Homo sapiens: one gene and its partner. The protein of the gene in region 1 purifies or fractionates together with the protein of each later gene. This does not show direct contact. Each region holds a gene or a part of one and is shown on either strand. Other genes may lie near its edges.

Evidence for each region.
Region 2: the proteins of CRYM (region 1) and NSF purify together in Homo sapiens (affinity purification with mass spectrometry; one large-scale study listed by BioGRID and IntAct). This does not show direct contact.

Annotation. Positions count from the first base shown.
Region 1 is NC_000016.10:21,257,867-21,261,458, reverse strand, and holds the end of CRYM (ketimine reductase mu-crystallin), read left to right. Parts: intron 1-120; coding exon 121-205; intron 206-2,613; coding exon 2,614-2,678; 3' UTR 2,679-2,938; downstream 2,939-3,592. UniProt on the Homo sapiens protein: Catalyzes the NAD(P)H-dependent reduction of imine double bonds of a number of cyclic ketimine substrates, including sulfur-containing cyclic ketimines.
Region 2 is NC_000017.11:46,596,888-46,600,709, reverse strand, and holds part of NSF (vesicle-fusing ATPase), read right to left. Parts: intron 1-3,822.

The DNA of each region.
Region 1 (3,592 bases):
TTTTTTTTTTTAATCAAATTTATCTCTTATCCAATTCAGGAATTCCCTGGGCTGGCTTCAAAAGCCAACCCTGCACAGACTTTAGCTTCATGCCTGGGTCAGCGTATGTTTGTTTCCTAGGCCGAGATCTTTGCTGAGCTGGGAGAAGTGATTAAGGGAGTGAAACCAGCCCACTGTGAGAAGACCACCGTGTTCAAGTCTTTGGGTAAGATCCATTGCTCCCTGGGCACAAATCCAACTAGCGCACAAGGCAGGTTCACCCATTGGTGGAAAGAGCAATGAGTCACCAGACTCTGCAGCTGAATCATTGTGCTCCATCATTCAGGTCAATTATTTACATGGTTTAGCCTAGTGCTAAGCCCATGAACTCTGGAACTGAGCAGTCCTGGGTCAGAGTCCCTTCCCCGCCACTCAAAGGCAGGTGTCCTTAGGCAAGTGATCTGACCTCTGTAGGCCTCAGTTTCCTCACCACCTGTTACCATTGAGGATTAGGTGGGATTTGCATATAAAATGAATCAGTTCGGTGCAGATCTTGATGAAATTCAGAAGGTACCCTTCAGAGGTGGAGGGGGCAGGGGACAAAGATGTTAAAAGACAGGAACCTTAAGGGAAATGGCAGAGACCCAACCTGAAAGAGTCAGATGGAAAGTATAGCCTAAGCCCTGTTCATTCCCTCCTTCCCTACTCTCCCACTTGCTGCTTTGAGGAGGGCTTCCATGGGGAGCCCCCTACCACCTGAGTTGTATGGGGTACCTTATAGAAGCCCAACAAAGGGTGGGCTCCCAGTGGCCAGTCTGTCCCTTGCCCCAGGTCCTCTTCCACCCTATGAGATTGAAGGAAACAGAAGTACATGGGAACAGGCTGAGCTCGGTGGCTCACGCCTGTAATCCCAACACTTTGGGAGGCCAAGGTGGGCAGATCACTTGAGCTAAGGAGTTTGAGACCAGCCTGGCCAACATGGTGAAACTCCATCTCTACTAAAAATACAAAAATTAGCCAGGCGTGGTGGTGCACATCTGCAATCCCAGCTACTTGGGAGGTTGAGGCAGGAGAATCACTTGAACCCGGAAGGTGGAGGTTGTAGTGAGCTGACATCGTGCACTCCAGCCTGGGCAACAGAGCAAGACTCCATCTCAAAAAATAAATAAATAAAGTACATGGGAACAGAGCTGATACACCTAAAACACTGAAATACTCCCAAACTGGTTGGTAAACAGTTGCTATCCTGAGCCCCTCGAGAGTGCCCTCTGTCCCCCTCTCATGACCTTCCATACTTCGTGATCAAGCAGCAAAAGAGTAAATGCCTGGCAGAGCATCAGGAGCGCTCTGGCCACCCAGAGCCCATGCCATTGGTTAAGTATCCATGCCTTGCAGGTTGGTAAATGTCTTTAAAATCTCTCATGCACTGGAAGACAAAGGCAATACAATTTTATCTGGAGCCTGGTTCAAAGACATCACATGGATCCAGTTTTGTCTGAAAACTTCAAAGGTCATGGCAGATCAGAGGTCAGCCAGCCCTTACTTAAGGAGCCAAAATGCTGCAGAAACTTGTTCTGTCCTTTTTGGCAATTTTTGCTTTCTTACTTTTGGGGATCAGTTTATTGGTGCATTGTTTCATCTAACAGATGCGTATCAAGCACCTAATTATCTGTGCTGGGTGCAGAGGTTAAGGTATCTACCAAAATTACAAGACAAAGGGGAGATATCAAAGGATGCAGCATTCAAACTGGACCAAGCGTCAGAAAACTACAGTCCTGGGGCCAGACCTGCTCTGCTGCCTGCTTTTGTGTGGCCTATGAGCTAGAAATGGTTTTTAGATTTTCAAATGAATGGGGGGAGAAAATATTTCATGATGTCTGAAAATGATACAAAATTCAAGCTTCAGTCCCATCAATAATTTCACTGGAACACAGCCCACAGCCAGGCTCTTTTGTTTACCTGTTGGCTGTGTTTTCTACTCTAAAGGCAGAGTTGAATAATTGTAATAGAGACCCTGTGGCCCACAAAGCCTAAAGGATTTACTGTCTGACCCTTTTTGAAAAGTTTGTTCAGGCCAGGCGTGGTGGCTCATGCCTGTAAGCCCAGCACTTTGGGAGGCCGAGGTGGGCGGATCGCCTGAGGTCAGGAGTTTGAAACTAGCCTGGTCAACATGGTGAAACCCTGTCTCTACTAAAAATACAAAAAAAAAAAAAATTAGCCAGGCATGGTGGCATGCACCTGTAATCCCAGCTACTCAGGAGGCTGAGGCAGGAGAATCACTTGATCCTGGGAGGCAGAGTTTGCAGTGAGCCAAAATCGCGCCACTGCACTTCAGCCTGGGCAACAGAGCGAGACTCCATCTCGAAAAAAAAAAAAATTAAAAAAAAAAATTTGCTCAGCCCTGAGCTAGATTTAGAAAGATGCACAATTTGTTGGTGGGTGTTTCTTACTATCATATTCTCTGCCCCTTTGCAGACAATTGAAGCCTGAGCTCATCTCTGGGTATCAGTCCCTGTTATTCCAATAGGCATTGGCAACATGGACATGTATCAGGAAACTTCCAGCCATGGGGCCTGGGTTGTTTCAAGAAAAGTTGTTTTGACCAAAGGCGAACCAAATTTCTGTCTATTCTAGGAATGGCAGTGGAAGACACAGTTGCAGCCAAACTCATCTATGATTCCTGGTCATCTGGTAAATAAAACAAAGGAACTTGATGTTGAGATGGATGCTTGAGGAATATTGCTGCTGGTTCTCATAATTTCTAGAGTAAATGAGGGAGTCCAGTCCCCAGTGAACTCTCCTTTTGTGCTTATCATGTTTTACCTTAAATGCTGAGATCCTCATTTATGTTTGTAGTTGGAAAGCAAAGCTAGGTAGCCATTTCTTCTGTTCTACCAAGTTATAATAGCATTCATTTCCCTTTATATTTCCCTGAAATAAAGCACATTCCAATTGTGCAGTGTTTGCTTCGGTAACTTCTATTACTATCACAAGGAAACTGAGAGGGATCAGATGCTCCCATTTACTCCCTGGGGGAGCTACACTGGCTATAATGAAACTTCTTTTTTATGTATTTATTTAGTAGTTACAACTCACATACTCTAAGATCCACTAGTTTAAACTATACAATTCAGTAGTGTTTTTTTTTTTTTTTTTTTGGATGGAGTTTCACTCTTGTTGCCCAGGCTGGAGTGCGATGGCATGATCTCGGCTCACTGCAACCTCTGCCTCCTGGGTTCAAGTGATTCTCCTGCCTTAGCCTCACGAGTAGCTGAGATTACAGGTGCCACGCCACCACACTCAGCTAATTTTTGTATTTTTAGTAGAGACGGGGTTTCACCATGTTGGCCAGACTGGTCTTGAACTCCTGACCTCAGGTGATCTGCCCGCCTCGGCCTCCCAAAGTGCTGGGATTACAGGCGTGAGCCACGGCTCCCGGCCAAGCCTGGTCATTTCTTACAAGTGAAATTCTACTATATGTAGTCTTTTGTGCCTGACTCCTTAATGCTTAGAGGAAAAATGGAATTTCTGTATAGATCAGGGCTCCTTTGGTCATAAGTGGTAGAGACTACAACTCAAACTACCTTAAGCTGAATGAATGGAGAATGAGATT
Region 2 (3,822 bases), on another chromosome or scaffold:
GAAAGGTAGAGTAAATATATGGCATTATAATCTTTTGGGATCACCTTCCTATCTGCAGTCCCTCACTAACCAAAATATCGCTAATGTGGCAATGGCACTCGACTAAAATAATGTACATTCCGGGAAAAATAAAATTGGAACTGCCTAAATTGTCCTCTAATAAGAAAGTAGATGATTGTGGTATATTCACAAAACAGACTACAGAGTAGCTAAGCAGAATTAATTGGCTCACTATATATCCACAGGACTAAATTTCAAAATTATTTTAAGTGAAAAATGCAGGTTGCAGAAAGAAAGATATAGCATAAAACCATTATATACATTTTAAAGACACACAAAGCAATATATTGTTTTTGAGCATAAACATGCATAGATGTAGACAGAAAGAATCTATACCAACTTCAGGACAGTGATTACTTCTGGGAAAGGTCAGTGGTCTCAAGAAGGGATACTGCCAGGTGTGGTGGCTGCCACCTACAACCACAGCTACTCAGGAGGCTGAGGTGGGAGGATCACTTGAGGCCAGGTGTTGAGACTAACCTGAGCAACACAGAGAGATCCTATCTCTAAAAACTTTTTTTTAATTAGCCAGATGTGGTGGCACACCTCTGCTAGTCCAAGCTACTCAGGAAGCTGAAGCAGGAAGATTGCTCGAGCTCAGGAGTGTGAAGCTGCAGTGAGCTATGACTGCGCCACTGCACTCCAGCCCAGGCCACCAAGTGAGACTCAGCCTCTAAAAAAAATTTTTAAATAAAACTAAAAAAAAAAAAAAAAAGGAGCAATACAAAGAAGAGTCAATTGGATCTGTAATGTTCTATTTTTTATTTATTATTATTATTTTTGAGACTGAGTTTCACTCTTGTGGCCCAGGCTGGAGTTGTGATCTCGCTCACCGCAACCTCTGCCTCCCAGGTTCAAGCGATTCTCCTGCCTCAGCCTCTCGAGTAGCTGGGATTACAGGCATGTGCCACCATGCCCGGCTAATTTTGTATTTTTAGTAGAGACGGGGTTTCTCCATGTCAGCCAGGCTGGTCTCGAACTCCCGACCTCAGGTGATCCACCAGCCTCAGCCTCCCAAAGTGCTGGGATTACAAGTGTGAGCCACCATGCCCAGCTGTAATGTTCTATTTTTAAAAAGATAAATATCTGAAGCAGATATCATATGTTAACATTTCTTAAACCTCAGTGGTAATCACATGGATATATGTTATTCACTGTGCTTGTCATGCTTGAAATCTCTTAAAGTGTGCATGAATTATACTCATTCAAAAATACTTAGGGCTTCCAGAAATGGTTACATCTACAAAAGGAATATTTAGTTTTCACTATAAAAAAAAATAAGTTGGAAATTAGTAGTTTAAATCACTAGGAAACTGAAGTCAGTATAAGGTAGCTCTCAGAGCAATATTAAGGATATCAGTACTAAAATACGAAAGAGTATCTCACTGAGAGATTTTCACTTAAAATACCACAGCCAGAGTATAGATGTTTTAAAAAGCATTACAGCAAGTGCTTAGTGTATTGCCCAATGAAGGTATTTGTAAGGGTTCGCTCTTCTGCCACTGCCAAAATTTTCAATGGTAAGATAATATACTTTACCTTATACTTTTGCACCTTAACTTAACTACTTGAAAAAAAGAGTCATCCTATACATAAATTCCTCTGGGTTTCAGAAAGAAGAAGCTATCTAATGATGCTTTAAAGAATTGTTTTGTTTCCTAAAATTCATTGCATTTGAAGATACTTTTAAAAATATCCACTAAAGCGATACACAAAACTAATAACTACTGCATGTAAGACTGCAGAAAGTTGATATACTTTGGACAAACTTTCATTCAGGAAATGGACTACCAAACACTTTATAGTATTTGTTTTGATTTGTAGTACTGCACATGAGCTATCCACAATTTACAGCTTGAGTTCCAAAGTTTCATCTGAAAGTTTGTTTGGTAATGATGTCATTCACCCACAAAATGTTATAAATGACTAGGTTTCTAAACAAAGGCTACAAAAGCTTCTGATATTGATACTGATACTGAATATTCTGGCCTGCCCTAGTCAAAACACTAGATTCGACAAATTTTACCTCTAACATCTTTCCATACCCCTTTCAACTCCTAAGCAAGTTCTCTCTCGTTGGTTCCTATTTCACATTATCTTACTCCTATCTCTGCCAAACAGATGACCTCGACTAGGTTTAAGGACTTATGAAGAAAGAGATCCACTGGCTTTATTTGCACTAAAGTATGTGTATTTTCAGAAAGGGACTGCTGAATCTCCAGTAAGTGAGATTTCTGGCAATTTTAAAAGATAAGCATACAAAACAGTTCAGGCACTGTGGAAAACTTTTCTTTTTTCTTTTCCAGTAGTGGGAAGGTAGTGGTATCTTCTGATGACCTAGAAACTGTACACTGAATAACATCACACATTTTATTCTTCAGCCAATTTCCCAGATAAACTATATACGGTGCTTCATTGGAAAAAACTTCAATTACATAGTGAATATAAATCCCACTTATAAGATGATGTCAGAATATCAAAAGTAGTAAGAATGCAAAATAAACTGTCCCCCACAAAAAGGAAATATAAAACCCATTAAGAGTATCGCAACAGCCGGGCTCAGTGCCTCACGCCTGTAATCCCAGCACTTTGGTAGGCCAAGGCAGGCAAATCACTTGAGGTCAGGAGTTCGAGACCAGCCTGGCCAACATAGCAAAACCCTGTCTCTACTAAAAATAGAAAAATTAGCTGGGTGTGGTAGCACAGGCCTGTAATCCCAGCTACTAGGGATGCTGAGGCAGGAGAATTGCTTGAACCCAGTGAGTGGAGGTTGCAGTGAGCCAAGATCGCGCCACTGCACTACAGCCTGGGCAACAGAACAAGACTCTGTCTCAAAAAAAAAAAAAAAAAAAAAAAAAAAAGAGTATTGCAACAACAACAAAAACATTTGATAAAATTCAACATCCCTTCATGATTAAAAAAACTCTCAACAAATTAGGCATAGAAGGAATATATCTCAAAATAATAAAGTCTATACACAACAAACCCAGAGCTAACATCATACTGAATGAGGAGAGGTGAGATCTTTCTTCTAAAAGCTGGAATGAGGCAGGGATGCCCATTTTCACCACTCCTATTCACCACAGTACTGGAAATCCTAGCCAGAACAATCAGACAAGAGAAAGAAATGAAAGGCATCCAAACTGGACAAGAGAAAGTCAAATTGTCTCTTTGCTGATTATATATCTGTAGGTTTAGAAAACCTTTAAATCAGTAGCATTTCTATACATCAATAAGGATCTAGCCAAGAAAGAAATTAAGAAGGCAATCCCATTTACAATAGCTACCGAAAACAAACAAAAACCTAGGAATACATTTAACTAAGGAGGTGAAAGATCTCTACAAAGAAAACTACAAAACACCAATGAAAGAAAATAAATCAAAAAACATCCTATGCTTGTGGAAAGAATTAATATCACTAAAATGACCATATTGCCAAAGCAATCTACAGATTCAATGAAATCCCTATCAAAATACCAATGTGATTCATATGGGACCAAAAAAGGAAAAAGAAAAAAGCCCAAACAACCAAACCAAACCTGGGCAAAAAGAACAAAGCTGCAGACATCACATTATCTGACTTCAAAATATATTATAAAGCTATAGTAACCAAAACAGCATGGTATTGGTATAAAAATAGACATGTAGACCAATGGAACAGAATAGAGAATCCAGAAATAAAACCACATAATTATAGACAAATGATCTTCAACAACACTGACAAGAACTCACACTAAGGAAAGGACACTGTCTTCAATAAAT